Regions from separate parts of the Homo sapiens genome. Here all the other regions are linked to region 1. The links come from fine-mapping of genetic effects on gene expression. A gene starts in region 1. Each other region holds a variant in brackets. All regions are shown on one strand. Distances are from middle to middle.

Region 1 (6,316 bases):
GCACCACACCCTGGGCCTGGTAGTTAAAGATTGACCCCTGACATAATCGGTTATGTTATCTATAGATTACAGACATTGTATAGAAAAGCACTGTGAAAATCCCTGTCCTGTTTTGTTCCGATCTAATTACCAGCCCCCAGTCACGTACCCCCTACTTGCTCAATCGATCACGACCCTCTCACGCGCACCCCCTTAGAGTTGTGAGCCCTTAAAAGGGACGGGAATTGCTCACTTGGGGAGCTCGGCTCTTGAGACAGGAGTCTTGCCGATGCCCCTGGTCGAATAAACCCCTTCCTTCTCTAACTCGGTGTCTGAGGAGTTTTGTCTGCGGCTCTTCCTACTACACATCCACATCAGTACTTCTTACAAACAGCATCCTTGAATAGTCAGAGGGGGTGCTCTGGAAGCACAGGAATCCCCCTCTCTGGGGCTCTGGTTTGTTTACACTTACACAATGCCCTGGGGCTGGTGACTTTAGATGTGAGGTGTGGAGGTGAGGAGGATACAAAAGAGCGCAGAAATACACTTGTGGAGGAGGAGGGAGCCGAGCACAGGAGCAACGGCAGAGGAATGAGGACCACCCCTCAGCTGGCCTTTCACACCACTCCCTCTCACCTTGTGTTCGCCCTTGGTCTATGAACACTCTCCCAACTTTTTCCAGAATGTGTCCACCCTCCAAATGCCCGGAACAAGAGCAGGGGGTGATATACTTCCTGGGTTCTTAAAATGTAGTCCGAGTCCCCAAAGTAGGGACATCACCTGGGAGGTTTGCAGAGTCGCAGAAACTCAGACCCCTCTTATCACCAGCTGAATTGGAATTGCATTGGAACAAGACCTCAGATAACTGGAGGGCACGTTAGTGGGACACATTGAGGACTGCAATGTGTAAGGAACAGTAGCCAGTCATGCCCCTTAGCCCCAAAGGGTCTTTGACATTGTGTGCCAAATGCTTAAGGATTTTTGCTCTTTGAAATTTCATGATGCAATAGAAACCATATGAATCGGGAGTCTGACAGAACTTGGAAAAAACCCTGGTTCAGTTCCCCTCGAGCAAAAGATTTAACCTTCAGATCTCAAGGACCAGGGAGATAAAATGGGAATAATGATAATCATGCTGACCTCATACAAATACTGAGGTTGCATGACTTAGGAGCGTCTGGTACACAGAAGGGACTAAACCAATGTCAGGTTCTTCTTACTAATAATGAAAAAAACATGCCTGAGAAAGAATGATGCTTTAAGATTTAAACAACCCATGCATCATAACTTACAGGTTCACTTCTTGGTTTATGCAGAATCTTACACCAGATAAAGGGTAAAACAAACTCTACGATTTCATGAAAAGGTTTGGGTAGGAATTGGGAATATAGAAAATATAAAACTGTGCTGCATTCCATGATTTGATGGCCCTAAACAGAGAGGCACTTGGACCACGTGGAGAACAGTGATGCATTTGGGGTCATTCTGACTGAAACATGTCAGGTGTGTTAGACTTTAAAGCAAACAACAACAAACAAAGCAAAGCTCTGATTGAGAAGAGTTATTTCCTCTTAGCACTCTGGTATAAGTAGGTGGAAACTCATCTTTACAACTGTTTGTCTCACTTCATTCTTTGCAGCTGCTTTACAGATCATGATGGGTTTTGGGGATGATTTGTGTTATATAGTTCACACATAAATCACATAATGTTGGCCAGTCGCAGTGACTCACACTTGTAATCCCAGAACTTTTAGGAGGCCATGGCAGGGGGATCACATGAGGCCAGGAGTTTGGGACCAGCCTGGTCAACACAGCAAGACCCCGTCTCCATAGAAGACAGAAAAGCCACAAGCCACAATTCCCACTGCCAGTGATGCACACCTGTAGTCCCAGTTACTTGGAAGGCTGAGGTGGGGGAGGATCGCTTAAGCCCAATAGTCGAAGGAGCTATGGTGGCACCACTGCACTCTACCCTAGGTGACAGAGTGAGACCCCGTCTCAATTTTAAGAGCAACAACAAAAACACATAATGTCAGAACTGAAACAGCCTCACAAAAGTCCAGAAAAAGGCAAGTTGGGAGTCGTGGGCTAATATCAGCTGGAATTCAGCCGTTCCAGATGCTGCCAGTGGCCCTGGATGGAAGTGAAGTCAGGTGGAGATGCCTTTACTCCTTTCCTAGCTCTCTCTTCCCCAGAAGCAACCTTCCCAGTGCCCCCTTCACCTCTCTGTTTCTGAGGGTGTAGATGAGAGGATTGAGGAGGGGGGTGACAATGTTGTAGAAGAGCATGAGGAACATGCCCTGGTCCTGGGAAGAACTGGCTCCTGGCTGCATGTACATGTAGATGATGTTTCCATAGAAAAGGGAGACCACAGTGAGATGGGAGCCGCAGGTGCCGAAGGCCTTCTGCCTTCCTGATGCTGACCGAATTTGTAACACAGCCCTCACAATGTAGCTGTAAGAGAGCAGGATAAACACCAAGGGGGACAGCACAACACCCACCGCCAGGACAAAGACGGTGCCTTCGATGGCCACAGTGCTGACGCAGGCCATCCGGATCAGGGCGGGCATCTCACGCAGGAAGTGGTCCACCTCGTGGTGCCCACAGCGGGGTAAGCGCAGGGTCACAGGAGACATGGCCAAGGAGTTGGCCACCCCACAGCCCCAGGTCACTGACACCAAGCCCCGGCAGAGCCTGGGGTTCATGATCACCATGTAGTGCAGGGGCTTGCAGATAGCCACACACCGGTCATAGGCCATGACAGCCAGAAGCAGGCACTCCACACCACCCAGACCCAGGAACAGGAAGAGCTGGATGGCACAGCCCATGTAGCTGATGGTCTTGTCACATCCATTAAGGTTGTAGAGCAGCTGGGGGATGGAGCTGGTGGTGAAACTGAGGTCCAGGAAGGAAAGGTGGGCGAGGAAGAAGTACATGGGGGTGTGGAGGTGGGGGTCCAGCCGGGACACCAGGATGATGGTGGTGTTGCCTACGAGGGTCAGGAGGTACGCGATCAGGATGACCACAAAGAGGATCCTCTCCAGATGGGGTCGGTCAGAGAATCCCAGTAGGATGAAATGGGTTTGGGTGCTGCCATTGGTTCCATCCATCTCTACTGCTGCTGAACAGAAATATCAATCCTAATAATAATAATAACAGCTGATATTAAGGGAGAACTTACTAGAAGCTAAGCATTCTTCTATGCTTTTTATATTTATTTTATTCATTCAACCCCAACAGTTATATGGAGTTGCACTATTATTATTAGCTCCCAACTTATAGAAAAGGAAACTGAAACACATGTGTGTTGAGCAAACTGTGATATGTAGGAAGACACAGAGCTGATTCTGAACCCCGGCAATGTAGCTGAGAGTGTGCAATCTAAACCACCAGTAGCACTGCCTCCAAATCCAGTGAAGTGAAGGCAAATCCTGCTGTGGCCAAACCACGAATTTTTCTAGAGACTCCAGTCCCTAGGCTCCTGCCAAAAACCTCAAGGACTCAAAATGGAGCCTCAAAATAATCCATCAATAGTATTTAGGAAATACTCTTTACACACAGAGTACTTTATCTATTACTGGTCTCAAAGACACACCTCATTCATTGGGTTACCATTACTGAGGTAATTTTTAAATTACCTCAGAATTTAATTTAATTTAATTTTAAAATTACCTCAGTAGATAAATAATGTAAGAGACAGGCAAAATACACATAAAATCTCTTTTTTTCTCTCTGTCTTTTAAATGGGCCTGGTATTGAACAAATAGAGTGTATGGGTTTTTCTTCCAAAGTACTATATACTGCTTGAGAGGATAAAAGAGATTGAAAAAACTTTGTAACAGATATTACAACTGTAATGCAAAATTCACGCATATGTACAGAAACCTCTATCACGTTCCAACTCTAATACCACATCACATTCAAAGCAAAGCATATTTGATAAGACAAACCACAAGTCTTACAGATGGATATAGGGAGACTTGGTCCATCCTGGTGTTTGGGTGATGGATGCATTAAAAGCCAAGACTTCGCCACTGTGCAATACATGCAGCTAAAAAGCAGTACCCCCAAATTAATATAAATAGATATAAGCATGTATGTGCAGGTAAAAAGCAGTACTCCCAAATTAATATAAATAGATATAAGTATGTATGTGCAGGTAAAAAGCAGTACTCCCAAATTAATATAAATAGATATAAGTATGTATGTGCAGGTAAAAAGCAGTACTCCCAAATTAATATAAATAGATATAAGCATGTATGTGCAGGTAAAAAGCAGTACTCGCAAATTAATATAAATCCATACGTGGAGGTAACAAAACAGTACTCCCAAACTAAGACAAATAAAAATAAATACATGCGAAGATGGCCGAATAGGAACAGCTCCGGTCTACAGCTCCCAGCGTGAGCGACGCAGAAGACAGGTGATTTCTGCATTTCCATCTGAGGTACCGGGTTCATCTCACTAGGGAGTGCCAGACAGTGGGCGCAGGCCAGTGGGTGCGCGCACCGTGCACAAGCCGAAGCAGGGCGAGGCATTGCCTCACCTGGGAAGCGCAAGGGGTCAGGGAGTTCCCTTTCCCAGTCAAAGAAAGGGGTGACGGACGCACCTGGAAAATCAGGTCACTCCCACCCGAATATTGCGCTTTTCAGACCGGCTTAAAAAACGGCGCACCACGAGACTATATCCCACACCTGGCTCGGAGGGTCCTACGCCCATGCAATCTCGCTGATTGCTAGCACAGCAGTCTGAGATCAAACTGCAAGGCAGCAGCGAGGCTGGGGGAGGGGCGCCCGCCATTGCCCAGGCTTGCTTAGGTAAACAAAGCAGCCTGGAAGCTCGAACTGGGTGGAGCCCACCACAGCTCAAGGAGGCCTGCCTGCCTCTGTAGGCTCCACCTCTGGGGGCAGGGCACAGACAAACAAAAAGACAGCAGTAACCTCTGCAGACTTAAATGTCCCTGTCTGACAGCTTTGAAGAGAGCAGTGGTTCTCCCAGCATGCAGCTGGAGATCTGAGAACGGGCAGACTGCCTCCTCAAGTGGGTCCCTGACCCCTGACCCCCGAGCAGCCTAACTGGGAGGCACCCCCCAGCAGGGGCACACTGACACCTCACACGGCAGGGTATTCCAACAGACCTGCAGCTGAGGGTCCTGTCTGTTAGAAGGAAAACTAACAAACAGAAAGGACATCCACACCAAAAACCCATCTGTACATCACCATCATCAAAGACCAAAAGTAGATAAAACCACAAAGATGGGGAAAAAACAGAACAGAAAAACTGGAAACTCTAAAACGCAGAGCGCCTCTCCTCCTCCAAAGGAACGCAGTTCCTCACCAGCAACAGAACAAAGCTGGATGGAGATTGATTTTGACGAGCTGAGAGAAGAAGGCTTCAGACGATCAAATTACTCTGAGCTACGGGAGGACATTCAAACCAAAGGCAAAGAAGTTGAAAACTTTGAAAAAAATTTAGAAGAATGTATAACTAGAATAACCAATACAGAGAAGTGCTTAAAGGAGCTGAAGGAGCTGAAAACCAAGGCTCGAGAACTACATGAAGAATGCAGAAGCCTCAGGTGCCGATGCGATCAACTGGAAGAAAGGGTATCAGCAATGGAAGATGAAATAAATGAAATGAAGCGAGAAGGGAAGTTTAGAGAAAAAAGAATAAAAAGAAATGAGCAAAGCCTCCAAGAAATATGGGACTATGTGAAAAGACCAAATCTACGTCTGATTGGTGTACCTGAAAGTGATGCGGAGAATGGAATCAAGTTGGAAAACAGTCTGCAGGATATTATCCAGGAGAACTTCCCCAATATAGCAAGGCAGGCCAACGTTCAGATTCAGGAAATACAGAGAACGCCACAAAGATACTCCTTGAGAAGAGCAACTCCAAGACACATAATTGTCAGATTCACCAAAGTTGAAATGAAGGAAAAAATGTTAAGGGCAGCCAGAGAGAAAGGTCGGGTTACCCTCAAAGGGAAGCCCATCAGACTAACAGCGGATCTCTTGGCAGAAACCCTACAAGCCAGAAGAGAGTGGGGGCCAATATTCAACATTCTTAAAGAAAAGAATTTTCAACCCAGAATTTCATATCCAGCCAAACTAAGCTTCATAAGTGAAGGAGAAATAAAATACTTTACAGACAAGCAAACGCTGAGAGATTTTGTCACCACCAGGCCTGCCCCAAAAGAGCTCCTGAAGGAAGTGCTAAACATGGAAAGGAACAACCGGTACCAGCCGCTGCAAAATCATGCCAAAATGTAAAGACCATTGAGACTAGGAAGAAACTGCATCAACTAACGAGCAAAATCACCAGCTAACATCATAAT
Region 2 (6,316 bases), 160 kb after region 1:
CATGAGGAGAATGATGACTAAATTCATCAGCACAGCCGTGAGGTAGATCAGTGAGAAGAGCAAAGCATGCAGCCTCAGGAGCACCCAATTCTCAGTAAATCTCACAAGCAAGAATTCCATCATCTGTGTCTGATTGGTCATAGTTCAAAATTATAAGCGCCCTATGGAGTAAAGGAAAATAAGTGTCATACTAATATTAAAAAGTATCATTTGTTTCTTCATTTGTTGAATGAAGGTATGTGTAGCATCAAGGCCTAGACAAAAAGTTTAAAAATATCAAGCAATTTATATTTCTCATGGACTCAGGTGTAAAACAACTGTGGGTATATCAGTCTAACACTTAGTAGTCCTGGACTAAGATTTATTGTGAAAGAAGCAAAGAACTTCACTTCTCTCCCTCATTACTTGAAATGACTTTTGAGTGATTTTATTTCCTTTGGGAATTACAGGGTTGGCTATGCAATTATATATAAAACTGCAATAGGGCATACATTTTCATGTATAAATATCCCGGTTAATGTAGTTTTGTGTGTATTAAATGTTGTGAATGAAATTTCTGCTTGCTACTTACTGCAATATTTAAAATAGTCATTATCCTCAGGTGATACTCTAATTTACTATCCCCTTCTCACTGAAGGATGTTAAGATTATTCTCCCATTTTTGCATTAAAGTTTACTCCTTTGGTGAAAATGTGATTATAGTATCATTTTTTTCTTTCTTTAGTCCATATACATAGCATAGCACAAAAATTAAAAAGTACTCGTTATTTTCACAAATCAGTTTTCAAATATATAGTGTCATTTTTCATGAAAAGAACAAAAACCTGAGACTTAGCCAGATGATTAACATAATATTCTAGGAAGGATTTAATTAAACACAGGAAGCGACAGACAGGGATATCTACTGCATCTAACCAGAGATGCAGTGTGTCCTCTTATGTGATAGACATTCAGAGATTGTCATCTGAGATCCCTCGCACACCCCAACGTGAGGGAGAGTTTTGGCCATGTTTTTCCCTCAGATCATCTTGTCTTTAGAACCTCTCTTGATTTTACTTTAGTATCACTTCAATGGCAATTTTTTCACTTTCCCCTTTGGTTTCCAGGCCATCTCTAAAACACACAGAACAGAAAACAGGATGGACGGTTTGCTAGTTTGGAAGTAGCTCTTAGGGTATGTAGACACTGCTCTAGGTTTTATTCTCCCCAGCAGGTCAAACAGAGGAGGCTTTAAGTTTGGGGCAGCCATGAACTTGCTCATGTTGAGCTATAAGTCAGGCTCTCCATTATTGCTCTAAAGCTACTGCCAGTGCTTTTTCCAACAAGAACACCCAAAGTTTGCAACATAGCATGAGATTTCCATTTGCTCTTGAGTCTTTTCAACTTAAAAAATATTTTATTTTTGTAGACACAAGAGAGTCTCACTTTGTTGTTCAGCAGTTTTTCAACTGAAAGAGAATGTAGCAGACCATTACAACATACATTCTCCTCCTTCTCTATACACACATATGCACACACACACAGCCGAGAGGATGAGCAAGAATAAACAGAGCTTTTCCAGGATGAGCAGTCGTACCTCTAACCTTCATAGAATATGTCCATTTCAGTACAAGTGATTTTCTGAGAACTAAATTAACAAGTGATTTAAAGTTGAAAAGGGACCAGGCATGGTGGCTCATGCCGGTAATCACAGCATTTTAGGAGGCTGAGGCCAGAGGATCTCTTAAGGCCAGGAATTCGAGACAAGCCTGGACAACAAGATGAGACCCCTCTATGTCTACAAAAATTAAATAAAATAATGTTTTAAGTTGAAAAGACTCATGAGCAAATGGAAATTTCTTACTATGTTGCAAACTTTGGGCTTTCTTGTTGGAGAAAGCACTGGCCCTAGCTTTAGAGCAATAATGGAGAGCCTGACTCATAACATGAGCTAATTCATGGAAGCCCCAAAAGTAAAGCCTCCTTTGTTTGACCTGCTGGGGAATAAAACCTGGAGCAGTGTCAAAATACCCCAAGAGCTACCTCCAAACTAGCAAACCATCCATCCTTGTTTCTGTTGCATTAGCCTGTGTGTTTTAGAGACAGCCAGGGTAGCTCAGTGAGTGAGTGAGTGTCCTTTTGAGTTCCTTCCACCCCAGTGATGTTTGACTCCAATGCTAGATTTTTATCCCTTCAGTCTCATTTTTGATTTATATTTCACCTTATTTCACATGCTTACATATGAAATGAGTGATAGCATTAGTTTAAAAGTCTGTGTGCTTTTCTTTACAGATAACATTAATAACAATAAAGCTTTGCCTCATTATATTTATATACTTATTTGGTCCAGGGAAATTCCACATGATTAAATAAAAATATGCAATCTGAGTCTCAATCAATCTAAAACTGGGAAAATACATATAATACACAAAATAATCCTAAAATCAAGGGGTATCTAAGAAGGCTGGGAAGATAGGGTAAGTTCAGGTTTATATGTTTCTTTACCATTTCTATATCATATTAACAACAAATTTTATCACTTTTGTCAAGAATATGAGGAATGGAGAGAATGAGAGAGCAAAGGGGAAGAGGAGAGGAGAGGAGAGGGGAGGGGAGGGGAGGGGAGGCCTATATGGAGTCTTCAGCTCCGGAAAATGTTTCCATTCTCGAGTAAGATCAACAGAAGCAACATTCATAACAAAGGCTATATGGAATCTTCAGC[C/T]CCGGAAAATGTTTCCATTCTCGAGTAAGATCAATAGAAGCAACATTCATAACAAAGGCCGGTGAGAATGCTTTCCCAAACAGTTCTATATTTATTTCAAAATAATTTCAGAAGAGAAGAAAATAAAAATGAAATGTCTAAGTAATTTAGGACTTCTTTTCACAGTTTTTGTTCAAAGAGAGCTCTAGTTTTCAATTCTTAGGGAGATCTAGTGAATGCTGCAAACAGTTTCCTATATGCTTACCGATTCCTGCTTCAAGACCCCAACTCCCCGGGTTAAACTCACGACGATTTTGATTGACCATTTCTGTCCTCTACGTATCAGTATTTATTTCTTTTGTGCAGTCTCCAAGCTCTGCTTGATGTCCTCTGTATTAGGCACTTCCTTCTTCAAGAAGGAGCAAGGCTTTTAAAGCAGCTTTAAACAGACTTTCATTGACTATATGGGACTCTCCTGGGAGGTCACACTTTTACTTGTACTTATATTTTATTTCATAGGTTTTAAGCCCTGGAGACCCAGCTCTTCACTCTCACCTCAGATCTGAGACGTGATGCCACACCTTTTCCTCCAGTGAGTCAGAAAAGGAGATCTTTCTGGGTCTCATGAGAATAAACCTTTATTTATTGCATCCATAATATGTGACTAATGGATCCTAGACATTCATTTGCATGTGACACCTTAAATTTTGGTGTGTGTACACAGACTCTTTAAATTGAGTGTAATAATCTCAGTCCAGTTTCAACTGAGAAGGACACTGGGAGATGCAGTGCTCTGACTTTGGGGTCTGAAACATGGATTTGTTTAAGTCCTTGAGCCATCACACTTCCCTTGGATCTTTCTTTTCTCCTCTCACTCTGGATTTAAGCCTCCAGGGAAGATGACGTCCCTTCAGATTCTCACAAATGACGAGAGATGCCTGTATAGAAAGTTCCCAAGAGCACCGAATTTTCAACATCTGTTTCATTCTTAAGTGATGCCAGGGGCATCCTCATGAGCATCCTACGAGTTCAGGCTTCCCTTGGAAGCAGCAACAAAATGAAACTCAGTGGGGTCTTCTCCAGGGTTGGGATGAGGTACAGTTTATTTTCAGATTTTGATCTTGTAATATTCTTATTATATTCACGTAATTTCCAGTTATTTGCTCGCTAGTTTGCTTTGAATGACTGACTTTCTAGATATCCTGGTGGGGACAGCCTCTATGCTGCCTAGAGCTTGTTTCTGTCATCCAGCAACCTCTTGTGGACACCCCACATTCATTGCGAAGTTGACGTTTAGATTAGACCTTCTTCTTCATCATTTTATGACATTTCGTAAGAGACATATGACATCCAGCCCCATAGGACTTCATTATCTACATTTTAAAAATTAGCTTATTGATTTTTAAGGTATTCCTAGGGATTTTGACAGGGACTGAATCTAGATCAATGTAGAAAACACTGTATTTTTAGCAACATTGAGTATTTTGAGCAATAAAGATGGTATATCCCTCCATTTTTAAGTCTTTAAAAGATTCTCAGAAACATTTTGTTATTTCAGTACATATCAGTACACAACCCCCAAGCTCATTTTGTTAAATTAATCAGTAGATACTTCATGAGTTTGATCCAAATCTGTATTTGTTTGTTTAGGCTGCCATGACAAAATACTACAGATGGGGTAGCTTAAACACGTCGTCTGTGAGTGGGTGTTTCTCACGATTCTGGAGGCTGCACATCTGAGATCAAGACGTCAGCTGCCTTGGTTTCCTCTGAATCTTCTCCTCGGGCTGCAGATGGACACTGTCTTGCTGCCTCTTCCTCTGGTCGTCTCTGTGCATGCGTGCCCCCAGGGTCTCTGCGTGCCCTAATCCCTGTTCTAATAAGGCATCAGTAAGTTTAGATTGGGGACCATCCTAATGGCCTCACTTTATCTTAATAAGCTCTTTAAAGGATTTTTCTCCAAATACAGTCAGATTCAGAGGTCTTGGAGGTTAGAACTTCAAAAGATGAATTTTGGAAAGACACAGTTCAACCTGTAACATAATATAAATGATATTGTTTTTGCTTTCCATTTCCATTTGTTTTTTAATACCATGTAACAGCCTTATTTTTATCATGCAACCTTCTTAACTAGCATAGTAGCTCTGGTAGCTGTTTTGTAGATTTCTCAAAATGTCTACGTAGATACTCATTTTGTGAGGAAAAGTTGCACTTCTTCATTTTTAATGAATTTTCTTTTTCTTTTTCTTACCTTTTTTCACTGCTTGGGGCTAAATAGAGGTGGTGAGAGAATAATCCTTTTTGATCCAGATCTACAGAATAAACATTCTGGCTTTCAGCATTAACTATGATATTAGTTGCAGGGTTTTGTCTTTTGTTCATTTTGTTGGCTTTTGTTTTTGTTCTTCTTGGTTTTGAGTTAGCAGATAACTTATTCAAAAAGAGTATTGCAATAGAAAGAATTTCCCCAAGCATGATACCTGTAGTCCTCTAAATGGTCAGGCAGAAAGGGCTTTTGTTATATAGGGAGAGTGAGGAAGGCTAGAAAGGACAGGGAGTGAGGGAGTAGAATGAGCAGATAGCATGATTGAACAGATAAACAGGAAATGTCTTTCCTTAAGTTTCAGAAGGTTTGTAAAATAGGAATTGTTCCATAGTCCAATGCATTTCTTTGGTTTTTGTTTCTTTTCAGATGCCTTTTATCAGTTTAAGAGGTTACCTTCAATACCAGGTTACTGAGGATTTTTGTCACAAATTTCTTCAAATCTTTCAAATCAGTTTTCTGATAATGAGGTAAGTGTATCTATTCACTTTTCGTCTTTAGTCCACTATTATGGAAATTAATCCTTAAATCTAGAGAGACAGGTGAATATAGAGAGTCACAGCTAAGATCTGCTCACTAGGAACGAAAGCCACAGAAATAATAAACTGGAAGGGTCACAAGTTTGATGAATTTCCGAATGCTCTCAGGATGGTGTAAGAGTAAGAAACTCCTGAGGGCCGCAGTCTCAGGGGGACCTCGTACTTTCATTGGTTTTATATCTAGGAATCCCACTAAGGCTTTCAAATAAAAAGCCAAGAAAGAATCTCTCCTGGATTGGCAAAAGGGTGGAAAAGTAACCATAGCATGCCCAGAGCCTTCCCAGATCAAAGGACCACTCCAGGCAAAAAGACTTTACTACAAACATATCCTGCCTGGGGGAAGGGCGTGCTGAGTCTGAAAGAAGCCAGACTTTCAGACTTGCTTCTTCACTTAGCAAAATGCATCCAAGATTCATCCATGTTGTTGTGTGGATATCTCATGCCTTTTTACTGATGATTAGTATTCTACTGCATTGTTGAAGTATACTTTATCCACTCACCTACTGAAGGACTACTTAGTTTCTTTCAGTTTTGGTGATTATAAATAAAACTTCTATAAGCACTTATATGCAGGATTTGTTTGCACATAACTTTTCAAATCAGTTGGGTAAGTACCAAGGGACCAAATCACTAGGTCATTTGGTAAGGCCATGCTCGGTTTTGCTAAAAGAGAGGTTTTACTTCCAAATAAGATGGACTAGGAAAGAGCTCCTCAGACCCCTCCTTTTCTCCAACAGAAAGCACATGTGAAACCTAAACATAATATAAAAAACA
Region 3 (6,316 bases), 270 kb after region 1:
TTTATTCTACTATATACTTCATAGCTTTTTTATTTACTTCATAGCTCTTTGCACTTTTATTGCATTAATATCCTTATATGACTATTTTGCCTTCTTCTACCAGAAAGTAAGTTCCATGAAAGCAGAGGAATTTATTTTTATATTAACAAGGGTATCAATCAGTACTTAAAGTACCAGTGCTGCAGAATATATAGAGCATTTATTCGATACATGCAAGTGATGAATAAATAAATGCATAGTTCAAATTAATTGAAAGTGTTTATGTGGACTCACAGTGTAAATTTTAAGCTTTGCTGAGGACACAGATCATCTCTGTTTGTTATATCTCCCTAGGTATTGACTACAATGAATAGTTACCAGTGTTTTTAAAAGTATACTGATCTATACTAAGATTATTTTAGTCATAAAAATCCACAATGGGATAAAATGTAAGTTTTTTCTGCGGGGGGAGGACAATCTCTACTTATATGTGTTATAGTCTCTGCTCAAATACATTACCAAAAAGCAGTTCCATGCATGCCATCTAAACTAGAAACTGAGGGGGAAGAATAAGATGGCCAAATAAAGGGCTCTACTAATTTTCTCCCCTGCCTCTACCAGTTTCACATCTACACAAAACAAACCACCTTTATAAGAACCAAAATCAAGTGAGCACTCACAATACCTGGTTTTAACCTCACATTAATAAAAGAGACACTGAAGAAGGTAGGAAAGAAAGTCTTAAATCCTTGATATTACCTCTCTCCAGTCCCTTGGCAGTGGCCATGTGGTGTGAAGAGAGAATCTGTGTGCTGTAAGAAGGATAGCACAGCAACTGTGAGACGTTGTATTGAACTCAGTGCTGTCCTGCCACAGCAGAAAGCAAAACTGGACTGAACTCAGCTAACACCTTTCCACAAAGGAAGCAGATAAATCAGCCCTAGCTAGAAGGGAATAACACATGCCAGCTGTTGGAACTTGAGTTCTGGCAAATGTCGCTATGGTAGGCTAAAGTGCTCTGGGATCCTATAAAAACTTGTAAGGCAGTATAGACTGCAAAGACTGCAACTCCTAGGTGGGTCCTAGTGCTGAACTGGGCTCAGAACCAGGGAACTTGGAGGGCATATGACATACTGAGACATCATCTGGGGTGGCCAAGGGAGTGCTTACATCACCCCCGCAACCTTAGGCTGCACAGCTCATGGCTCCAAAACAGACTGCTTCCTTCTGCTTGAGGATTGAAGAGAGTAAAGAGAACTCTGTCTTACATCTTGGATACCACCTCAGTCACAGTAAGATAGGCCATCAGTCAAAGCCGTGAGGCCCCCTTTCCAGGCCCTAGTTCCAAAATGACAATTCTAGACACACCCTAGGCCAGAAGGAAACCTGAGGCCTTGAAGGAAATTACCCAGTCCTGGCAGGATTCATCACTTGCTAACTAAAGAGCCCTTGGACCCTGAATAACTAGGAGAAATACCCAGGTAGTATCTTGTGGCCCTTCAGTGAGACTCTGAGACTGGCTACCTTCAGGTAAAACTCAGCACCATCCCAGCTATAGGGGCTATGGAGAAAAACCCTTTCTACTTGAGAAAAGCAGAGGAAAAAGTAAAGGGGACTTTGTCACTGGTTTAGCCACAGGGGGCTAGAGAACCAAGCAGGTCCTTGGGGTCTTTGAGTCCAGGCTTTGGCTCTTCGATGGCATTTCTGGATCTATCCTGGGCCAAACGAGAGTCCACTGCCCTGAAAAGTAAGTCCTATCCTAGGCAGCATTTACCGCAAGGTAACTAAAGAGCCCTTTGGCCTTAAGGAAATACTTTCAGTATCCTGGAATACTCCCTGTGGGCCGTGGTGGTAGTGGTCACAGATTGAGGCTCCTCTGCCTGTGGAAAATGGGGGGAAGAGGGGATAGAACTGCATCTCGTGGTTTGAATGCCAGCAAAGCCACAGTACAATAGAACACCAGGTAGACTTCTAAGGATTTTACTCTAGTCCCTGGCTACTGAATGGCACCTCTGGACTTGGCAGGGGCCTGTGGGAAGTCTGTGCCCTGAGGGGAAAGACACAGGCCTGGCTGGCTTTCTCACCTGCTGGTTATAGAGCCCCAAGGCCTTGAGAAAACATTGGAAGTAGCCAGGTAGTGTTTATAGCAGGCCACGAGCCAGGCTCAGTCCTGTGCTGGTTTCAGGTCTGATCGAGAGCACTCTGATGCTTGTGGCCACAGGGGTGCTTGTGTCACCCCATTCCTAGCTCCAGCTGGTTCAGAGTAGAGAGAGAGAGAGACTTCATTTGTTTGAGAGAAAGTAAGCGAAGAAAACATGAGTCTCTTTCTGGTAATCCAGTGATTTATTCCAGATATCACTTAAGACCATCAAGGTGGTATCTCTATGAGTCTACAAGAACCACAGGATTACTGGCCTTGGGTGCCCCCTAAAGCCAACACAGCTTAGATCACAACACCCAAGTCTTTTTTAATACCTGGAAAGCCTTCCCAAAAAGGATGGGTGCAAATAAGCTCAGACAGTGAGCAGTACAAAAAATAACTAACTCTTTAATGCCCAGACACAAATGAACATCCATCCACAAGCATCAACATCATCCAGGAAAACATTACCTCAGCAAATGAACTAAATAAGGCACCAGAGATCAATTCTGGAGAAACATAGATATGTCACCTTTCAGACAGAGAATTCAAAATAGCTGTGTTGAAAAAAACTCAAAAAAATTGAGAATAACACAGAGAAGGAATTCAGAATTCTGTCAAATAAATTTAACAAAGAGATTGAAATAAAAACAAGCAGAAATTCTGGAGTTGAAAAATGCAATTGACCTACTGACGAATGCATCAGAGTTTTCCAATAGCACATTGATTAAGCAGGAAAAAGAATTAGTGAGCTTGAAGACAGGCTATTTGAAAACAGAGGAGATAGTTTACTCCATTTTCATACTGCTATAAAGAGCTGCCTGAGACTCAGTAATTTATAAAGAAAATAGGTTTAATTGACTCACAGTTCAACATAGCTGGGGAGGCCTCATGGAGGAAGGGGAAGCAAGGCACCTTCTTCAAAGATGGCAGGAAGGAGAAGAGTCAAGCAAAGGGGGAAGAGCCCTTTATAAAACCATCAGATCTCATGAGAACTCACTCACTATCATGAGAACAGCATGGGGGAATCTGCCCCCATGATTCAATTACCTCCACCTTGTCTCTCCCTTGACATGTGGGGATTACAATTCAAGATGAGATTTTGGTGGGGATGCAAAGCCTAACCATATCGGGGACAAAAGGAAAAATTATAAGAAACAAAGAAGCATGCCTACAGGATCTAGAAAGTAGCCTCAAATGGGCTACTCTAAAAGTTATTGGCTTTAAAGAGGTGGTAGAGAAAGAGATAGGAGTAGAAAGTTTATTCAAAGGTGTAATAACATAGAATTTCCCAAACCTATATCATTATTCAAGTACAAGGTTATAGAACACCAATCAGATTTAGCCCAAATAAGACTACCTCAAGG[T/C]ATTTAATAAACTTCCGAAGGTCAAAATAAAGTATCCTAAAAGCAGCAAGAGACAAGAAACAAATAACATACCATGAAGCTCAAATACATCTAGGAACTGACTTTTCAACAGAAAGCTTACAGACCAGGAGAATGGTATGACATGTTTACAGTGCAGAAGGAAAAATACTTTTATTCTGGAATACCATATCCAGGGAAAATATTAGTTAAATATGAAGAAGAATTGAAGACTTTCCAGAAAAACAAGAGCTGGCGAATTTCATCAACACCAGACCAGACAATAACTACAAATAAAATAAAATACCAAGGAATTAACCACAGAAGTGAATGATTTCTACAATGAAAACTATAAAACGCTGATGCAATAAATTGGAGAAGACACAAAATACTGGAAAGATGTTTCACGTTCATGGATTAGGAGAATAAATATTGTTAAAATGTCCACTCTATCTAAAGTAATATACAGATTCAATTCAATCCTTATCAAAATACCAATGACATTTTTCACAGAAATAGGAAAAAAAGTCCTAAAATCTATGTGGAACCACAAAAGACCCAGAATAGCAAAGATTTATTAAGTAAAAAGAACAAAACTGGAGGAATCACATTATTTGACTTTAAGTTATACTACAGAGCTTTAGTAATCAAAACGGCATGGTTCTGGTATAAAAACAGACACATAGATCAGTGGAACAGAATAGAGAACCCAGAGATAAATCTATACATCTACAGTGAACTCAATTTTGACAAAGGTGCCAAGATCATACATTAGGGAAAGAACACCATTTTCAATAAGTGGTGCTGGGAAAACTGGATATTCGTATGCAGAAGAATAAAACTAGACCCCTTTCTCTCACCATATAGAAAACTCAAATCAAAATGGATTAAAGACTTAAATGTAAGACCTCAAACTATGAAAATACTAAAAGAAAACATTGGAGAATGCTCTCAGACATTGGACTGGTTGAAGATTTATTGACTAATACCTCAAAAGCACAGGCAACCAAAGCAAAAATGGACAAATGATCACATCAAGTTAAAAATCTCTGGCACAGCAAAGGAAACAATCAACAAAGTGAAGACAAAACCCATAGACTGAGAGAAAATATTTGAAAACTACCCATCTGACAGAATATATAAAGAGCACAAATAACTCTCTAGGGACAAATCTAATAATCTGATTTAAACATGGGCAAAAGATCTGAATAGGCATTTCTCAAAAGAAGACATAAAAATGGCAAACAGGTATATGAAAAGGTCCTCAATATCACTGATTGTCAGAGAAATACAAATCAAAACTACAATGAGATATCACCTCACCCCAGATAAAATGGTTTTTATCCAAAAGTCAGTCAGGCTATAACAAATGCTGGCAAGGATGTGAAGCAAAGAGAACCCTTGTACACTGTGGGTTAGAATGTAAATTAGTAGAATCACTATGGACAACAGTTTGACAGTTCCTCAAAAAATTAAAAATAGAGTTACCATACAATCCTGCAATCCCACTCCTAGGTACGTACACAAAAGAAAGGAAATTAGTGTATTGAAAAGGTGCCTGCACTACAATGTTTGCTACAGCTCTGCTCACAATAGTTACACAATGGAAGCAACACAAGTGTCCAACAACAGATGAATGGATAAAGAAAATTTGGTAACTATACACAATGGGGTTCTAGTCAACCATAAGAAGAATGAAATCCTGTCATTTGCAACAACATGGATGAAACTGGAGTTCATCATTTTAAGCAAAATGAGCCAAGCACAAAAAGACAAACTTCACATGTTCTCATTTATTTGTGGAAGCTAAAAATTAAAATAATCAAACTCTTGGAGCTAGAGAGTAGAAGCATGGTCTGGTAAGGGTAGTTGGGGGAAGTGGGGAGGAAATAGTGATGGTTGATGGGTACAAAAATAGAAATAATTATTAGGACTTAGTGTTTGTTAACACAACAGAATGACTGTAGTCAAAAATAATTTAATCATACATTTTAAAACTACTAACATATTATAACTGGATTGTTTGTAACACAAAAGATAAATGCTTCAGGTCATGGATACCCCATTTACCCTGATGTGATTACTATTTATTGCATGCCTTTATCAAGATATCTCATGTATCTCATATATATACACCTACTATATACCCATAAAAATAAAAATTAAATCAAAAATTTAAAAAACTGGAATCCAATACTACTTCATTCTCTATCCTCTTACCTTTCTCTATGCTTCTTCATTTAACTACAATTCCAGACAATAAATTATGCATTATTTGAATTGGTTTATTTATTATTTCATCAGTGGAAAAAATTGTTTCTTCTCTCTGCTACGGTAACTTTCTCCCTGATTAGCTTAGTGCACAGTTATCAATCAATAAATATCTATGAATGAACATATCCATTTAGTATAAATACATTCACTTTGACTCTGAGTCATAGTGCACACACACACACACCCAAGCACGCACACACGTGCTACTTCGACAGAAAATAATCAAATATATTTACAAAGTAATTATAAGTTGTAAAGCTAATACAGTTATGGTTTTTTCATCTGAGGAAGAAAATTCAAGACAAATTTAGGAAATTGTTTTCCAGTGTCAAGATTTTTGGATGAAAGATACTAGCCAGTTCACTTCCTTCTATCCTTCTATTAAACCAATGATATACAAATAAATGAATTACTTTTGCCAGTTTTTATATCTGCAAGATAAATCAGCAGTAGACAAAACGAAATTTCTTTTTTTCTTAGAATCAATAACTCTTGTTAAAGGAGATGGTATTTCTACTAAGGGATAAGTGAAAAGCTCAGGAAATGCTCAAATGAGGGC
Region 4 (6,316 bases), 50 kb after region 1:
GATTGTGTATGTTAGATTCTAAAAATACATCGACTTCAATAAATTATTCATCATTATCAAGGCAATTTTAGCCTTTGCAGATTCTCTATCTTTATGGAAACAGTAAATGATCTTGCCTAAATTATAAAACTGTAATAACAGACAATTAATCAAGAGTTCTCGAGAAGTCAAAAGGCCATTTAGTTTACTCTGGGCAAGATTGCATCTAAGAACAACAACATTCTTTTTTTTCTTTTTTTTTTTTTGAGACAGAGTTTTGCTCTGTTGCCCAGGCTAGAGTGCAATGGCATGATCTCGGCTCACTGCAACCTCTGCCTCCTGGGTTCAAGTGATTCTCCTGCCTCAGCCTCCCAGGGAGCTAGGATTACAGGCATCCGCCACCATGTCTGGCTAATTTTTGTGTTTTTAGTAGAGACGGGGTTTTACCATGTTGGCCATGATGGTCTCAAACTCCTGACCTCAGGTGATTCACCCTCTTCGGCCTCCCAAAAGGCTGAGATTACAGGCGTGAGCCACTGCCCCCAACAACAACATTCGTAATTATTTTTATTTCAAAGAAAGCTACAAAGTTAAATCTGAGGTTACCCTTGTTGCCCTAGAGCTAAAGCCAACCCAGTCTTTTGGGAAGCATTTTTTTTTTCCAGCTCAATGTAATTAAAGTAATTCTAGCACTTGGAAATAGTCAGTATTTAAGTAATCAGGCCCAGAGCACCTGTAATCCTAGCACTTTGGGAGGCCAAGGCAGGAGGATCACTGGAGCCAGGAGTTAAGGGCCAGCCTGGGCAATATAGCATGACCTCTACCTCTACAAAAAATATGTGGATATATAATTAACCAGTCATGGTGGCACACACCTGTGGTCCTAGCCACCCTGGCAGGAGGACACTTGAGCCTATAAGTTTGAGATTACAGTGAGCTATGATTGTGCCACTGCACTCCAGCCAGGGCAACGAAGCAAGACCTTGTCTCTTAAAAAAAAAAACAATCAGTATTTCAAAAGGTGGTGAGCTCTTCATTACTGAAAGGATTTAACCATGAAGCGATGATTATACAACAGTTCATTTTCCTTGTGCATTTGGATATGAATTGTGGGAGGTACTTTAGAAAACTAGGATCTGAGCCCAGTGTCCTGTAAACTTAGCCTATTGTAATAAAGGGCTGTTTTGTTTTCACTGTGGTCTCATCAAGGAGACCCTCATTGCGCTCCATGTTTAACTTATTTTTCTGTGGATGTTCATTTTAAATTGAATACCATGGTCATATTCTTATAAAATACTAAGTGAAAGCCAAAGCAAAAAGGAACCATTTTCCAAGAAAGCATTGTTGTTTTACCAAGAGTATTTATTATTATTATTATTATTATTATTATTATTATTATTATTATTTGAAACGGAGTCTCGCTCTATCACCCAGGCTGGAGTGCAGTGACGCGATCTCGGCTCATTGCAGCCTCCGCCTCCTGTGTTCAAGTGATTCTTCTGCCTCAGCCTCCTGAGTAGCTAGGACTACAGGTGCCCCCTACCACGCCTGGCTAAATTTGGTATTTTTAGTAGAGACAGGGTTTTACCATTTTGACCAAGCTTGTCTTGAATTCCTGACCTCAAGTGATCCACCCGCCTCGGCCTCCCAAAGTGCTGGGGTTACAGGCGTGAGCCACCGTGCCCGGCTGAATAAATAATCTATGTGAATAAATCAATCTATGTGGATCAAATAACAATTTTCTCACATCTCTTAGTTTTCGTTCAGTGTTTTCAAGCCAGAACTGCTGGAATATTTTGCCTTCAAACCAACATATACTTAACACTTTTATCTTGACTCTTATAAATTCTGAGAATGGCAGAAGAGTAGTTAGATCAGGCCTAAAGAAGAAGGTGTTATCTGAGCAGACTGGAAGGACATGAGAAATGAGCCATACAAAGCTGTTCAATGACAACGTTGCAGGGAACTAAACATGCTAAGGAGAAAACGAGGCACGTTTCAGGTAACTTGAAGAATACAAAGGAGGCGGAAGCACTGGGTGCAGAACGGACCAAGAAGAAAGTAGACTAAGAGTTTGGTGAGGCTGTGGGAGGAGAGAACAAGCAGGGCTGGGTAACCTGTCAAGGCTTTGTTTTTGTTTGTTGGTTGGTTGGTTTTTTGTTTTTGTTTCTTAAGCTTTATTGAAGAAATCAAGTACTATATAGTTCAATATATATGACACATTCAGTATTATACTCTTTTTAGCATGTGCAATAATGTTAAGATATTATTTTCTCTTGATATAATTATTTCCTGGCTACATGAAAATAATATTCCCAGTGACTTGGCCAAGAATGAGAGGAGAACGTAGAACAGAGCAGAAATAGTGAATTGCAACAGACATGAAGAACAGAAACAGCAAGTCAACAGAACGTCGATTCTGACAAAGCGGAAACTGCAGAGGTGAATATGTGGATTGTCTGGTCACAATGTTTTCTTCCTTTTCAGGAACAATTCACAGTACATCTGTGTTCACTGCAAAAACTCTCCCGTGTTTTAAAATATTCTCTTTGACTGCTTTCTTGAGTGGGGCAGGCTGGACGTGGAGGTGCTTTAACGAAACTATTGCAACAATCTAGATAAGAGATAGTGGTGCCTTTTCCAGGCAGCAAGCGATGGTGGTCGTAAATGGTGATCAGATCAGTTCTGAATACATTTTCAGGTGGAGCCAGTCAATTTTGCTGAAAAATTGGACATTGGGTTTGAAAGGAACAAGAGTCAAATTCAGAGTTTCTG[G/A]TCTGAGCAAGTGGGAGGATGGAGATGGGAAGGCTGCACTGAGGGAGGCTGGGGTAGTCAGGAGTGCTGGTCAGCTAAGTTAGGTCTCGTTAAATTGCAAATGCTGACTAGTCATGAGTGAGCATTTCACATAGGGCAGTTTTTACAGGACGCTTCTGTTCAAGCTTGAGACATAAATTTGAGGGCTGAGAGCAAAGTGACAGCATTCAAGTCAAGAGACTGCCTGAAACTGTGAAGGAAATGAAGGTAGATTGAAAGACACGAAGCCCTGTACAAGTGTGAAAAACCAGGGCTGTCGCTGATCTAAGAGAGTATGTAGTTGTGGATATTAAGTGACCAGTGGATCCAGGAAGAGGGAGGGATCAATGGTGCGATGATGCCACAGATGAAGAGGATCGGGAATGCGATGGGTGGTTGGAGGGCAATGCCAGCACAGCTGCGCCGTCTGGGGCAGTGGCAAGAAAAACATCCTGATCATAGTGCATTCCAGCGAGCAAGAAGGCAGAGGACGAGGAGCAGCAGGGAGGGACAGTGCCCTCCAGAAGGGAAAGCATCGGGAAAAGGGAGCAGAAAAGTGCAGGTAGTATTCAGAGAACAGCAAAGCCTCTAGACATTCTTCTCTGTTTTGTCTTTTTAAAGTGGGGGAGAGAAATCCAGCCCATTGACATGCTGAGGAAATGCTTTGGCAGAAAGGGCACCATGGGTGATTCAGGCATGAAGCTGAGAATACCCAGTGAAGGAGAGAAAAAAAGAATTTCTCTTCTCGACTTTCATTAAATTCACTGCTAGGACAGATTTTCATGAGCAAAACGCAGATCACCAAGAGAAAAACAAGCATGTTTATTTATGCATGTCATGCCCATCCACAAGAAAGAAAGCAGCTCTCTCAGGAAAACGGCTCACCTAGATTGTTGCGACGGTTTGGAAGCAGTGGCTTTGAGGCCTTGCTGAAATAGTATCTTAGCAAGGAGCCATACATCCTCTACGGTGACAAAACAAAAAAAACGGCATCTTCAGGCTTCCCAAAAGCAAGACATTTGGGAAGGAAAATTTACAGGAAGAGTAGTCTGTTCCGAGATCCCTGGCGTTGCTGTCTGAGCTGAGAAGCAAGCATTATAAAGGAGACTGTCTTCAGGTGGGAAGAGGCAGAGGGGAGGCAGGAAGACCTTTGTCTTTGTAAATCTTGGTCCTGCCTTCAGGAAAGCAGAGGAAGGGGCAGGTCCCCTGTGTGTTCGTCTTCTTCAGCTCAACACTCCTGAGTCTTTTGGATAGGAATAGTTTTGCCTCTGTCACCTGCAATACCTTTCCAGTGTGTAGGAGGTTATGGCGCCTAATGCCCAGGTGGAAGGATTTGCCTTAGACTTGGACACAGATAGTTTACTCAGAGGAAGTGTAGGGAGTAGGTGCACAGGAACAAAAGGTAGTCGATGGCAGAATTTAGTGGCCTGAGCTTGTGGATACTTCCACTGAAGGATTTCAGGATCTTCCAGTGAAATAAGTCTCTTACTGAGGGTACAGAGCAACAGGGATGTGCTAGACGTTCGAAAAGAGAGCAACATAAGTGAAATAGTCACTTAGGAGATTGGAAGAGTGAATAGATACGGGTATTGATAAAAACCAAAGTCTGTAACAAATATTTGAAGAGGTTTATTCTGAGCCAAATTTAAAGACCATGATCTGTGACAGTCCCAGGAGGTCCTGAGAATATGTGCTTAAGGTGGTTGTGTTACAGCTTGACTTTATCCATTTTAGGGAGACATAAGACATCAATCAGTACGTGTGAGCTATGCGTTGGTTTGGTCTGGAAAGGCAGGACAGCTCCAAGAATGGGGGAAGGTTACAGTCATACGTGGATGCAAAGACTTTTTGATTGGCAACTGGTTGAAAGAATTAAGTTATTGTCTGAAGACCTGGAATCAATAGAAAGGAGAATCTGGGTTAAGATAGGGGGGTTGGGGAAACCAAGGTTCTTATGATGTAGATGAAGTCTCATATGTTGCCAGCCTGAGAAGCAGCAGATGGGAAAAATGTTCTATTGAGACCTTTAAAAGGTGCTAGACTTTCAGCTAATCTCTTGAGGATCAGACAAAGGCCTGGAGAGGGAAAGGGATTCTCCGCAGAATGTAGATTTCCCCCACAAGAGACAGCTTTGCAGGGCCATTTTAAATATGACAAATAAATATATTTTGTGGTAAAATATTTCCATTTCCTTCAGGGTCGGCTGTCTGTCATGATGCTATACTAGAGTCAGGTTAGAATTTGGTAGCTTATTTCTACAGAGTCTGTTTCGTCAGCCTTAAAATCTCTTTTTTGATGTTATTGCTGCTCAGTTATGCCTGAATTCTGAAGAAAGGAGAGTGTAATGAGGTTTGTCCAACCCCCTCTTCCCATCATGATCTGAACCAGAATTTTTAGGTTTCTTTGAAATCCCCTTGGCTGAAAGGAGGAGTCCGCTCAGTCAGTTGTGGGGTTTAGAATTTTATTTTTGGTTTATAAGGGAAATACAGAATGATTGCTCTCCAGCAGTAAGGGCACACTGAGTTTGTTGGTTGTACATTTTAAAGAGGTTCTATTCTTGCTTGTCTCACTCCCTCAACTTCACAGAAGCTCCTGTATGGCAGGTGGATGTTTACTTTATCCAGAACTATAGACAATGAATTAAATGAAAGAATAAAAGGTGTACACGAGGGTGTAATTATAGTGGCTGAGCATGAGTATGGTATCGGATGAGGCAAGAAAGGACACCAGTGGAGTGAGGCAGATTAGTTCAGCACAGGCCTTCACACACACACACACACACACAAACACACACACACAAACACACACACACAGCAGGGACTAATAAATATTGTTTGAGGGTGGAATATATACACTTTCCCAAGATGGCATAGGAGATGTGCTGTGTCTGGCTTCTTTTTCAGACAAAGCCCACAGATGAGAAGGGAAAGGCATTTGCTTCCACATGTGCATGATTTTTTTTTTTTTTTTGAGACGGAGTCTCGCCCTGTCACCCAGGCTGGAATGCAGTGGTGCGATCTTGGCTCACTGCAATCTCCGCCTCCCGGATTCAAGCGATTCTCCAGCCCCAGCCTCCCACGTAGCTGGGATTACAGGCAGGCACCACTACACCCAGCTAATTTTTGTATTTTTAGTAGAGACGGGGTTTCACTGTGTTGCTCAGGCTGGTCTCGAACTCTTGACCTCGTGATACGCCCGCCTCGGCCTTCCAAAGTGCTGGTATTACAGGCGTGAGCCACTGCGCCCGGCCGTGCAGGATTTTTTTTAAAGCTTTGTTGTTATTGTTAGTTTTCTGAGTTTTTGTCCAGCTTTATTGAGGTGTAGTTGATAATTATTGTATACTATATATTTACAGTGTACAACTTTGTTCTCGTAGATGTATTCATTGTGAAATAATCATCACAATCAATCCAATTAACATATTCATCACCTCAATTTTTCTTTTTTGTATGGTGAGAACACTGAAGATCTACTAATAAGAGTCCTTTTTTGCCTGTCTTTGGAAGGAGACTTCAAGATTTCAGAGAACCCAGATGAATGAAAC

Evidence for each region. PIP is the estimated chance that this variant, and not a neighbour inherited with it, causes the effect. A credible set is the group of variants that fine-mapping cannot tell apart.
Region 2: its variant is the best candidate, but not a certain one, in a credible set for the expression of OR2W3 in testis (GTEx, PIP 0.58).
Region 3: its variant is the best candidate, but not a certain one, in a credible set for the expression of OR2W3 in breast (GTEx, PIP 0.66).
Region 4: its variant is the best candidate, but not a certain one, in a credible set for the expression of OR2W3 in sun-exposed skin (GTEx, PIP 0.71).

What each region holds. Positions count from the first base shown.
Region 1 is chr1:247,892,360-247,898,675 of GRCh38, reverse strand. It overlaps OR2W3 (olfactory receptor family 2 subfamily W member 3), which reads right to left and starts at 3,089. Exons shown (of 1, transcript NM_001001957.2): 1 at 2,145-3,089. The coding sequence starts at 3,089. The coding sequence ends at 2,145.
Region 2 is chr1:247,732,440-247,738,755 of GRCh38, reverse strand. OR14A2 (olfactory receptor family 14 subfamily A member 2) reads left to right here. Exons shown (of 5, transcript NM_001355292.3): 2 at 3,200-3,272; 3 at 4,331-4,570; 4 at 5,373-5,473. It overlaps OR14K1 (olfactory receptor family 14 subfamily K member 1), which reads right to left and starts at 141. Exons shown (of 1, transcript NM_001004732.2): 1 at 1-141. The coding sequence starts at 141. The variant C/T (reference allele first, on the strand shown) is at 2,702.
Region 3 is chr1:247,623,875-247,630,190 of GRCh38, reverse strand. The region is part of intron 2 of LOC102724446 (a long non-coding RNA gene); the gene reads left to right. Among named protein-coding and RNA genes, the nearest start is that of OR14L1, 9.9 kb to the right of the region's middle. The variant T/C (reference allele first, on the strand shown) is at 3,487.
Region 4 is chr1:247,842,120-247,848,435 of GRCh38, reverse strand. No RefSeq gene overlaps it. Among named protein-coding and RNA genes, the nearest start is that of OR11L1, 3.4 kb to the right of the region's middle. The variant G/A (reference allele first, on the strand shown) is at 2,755.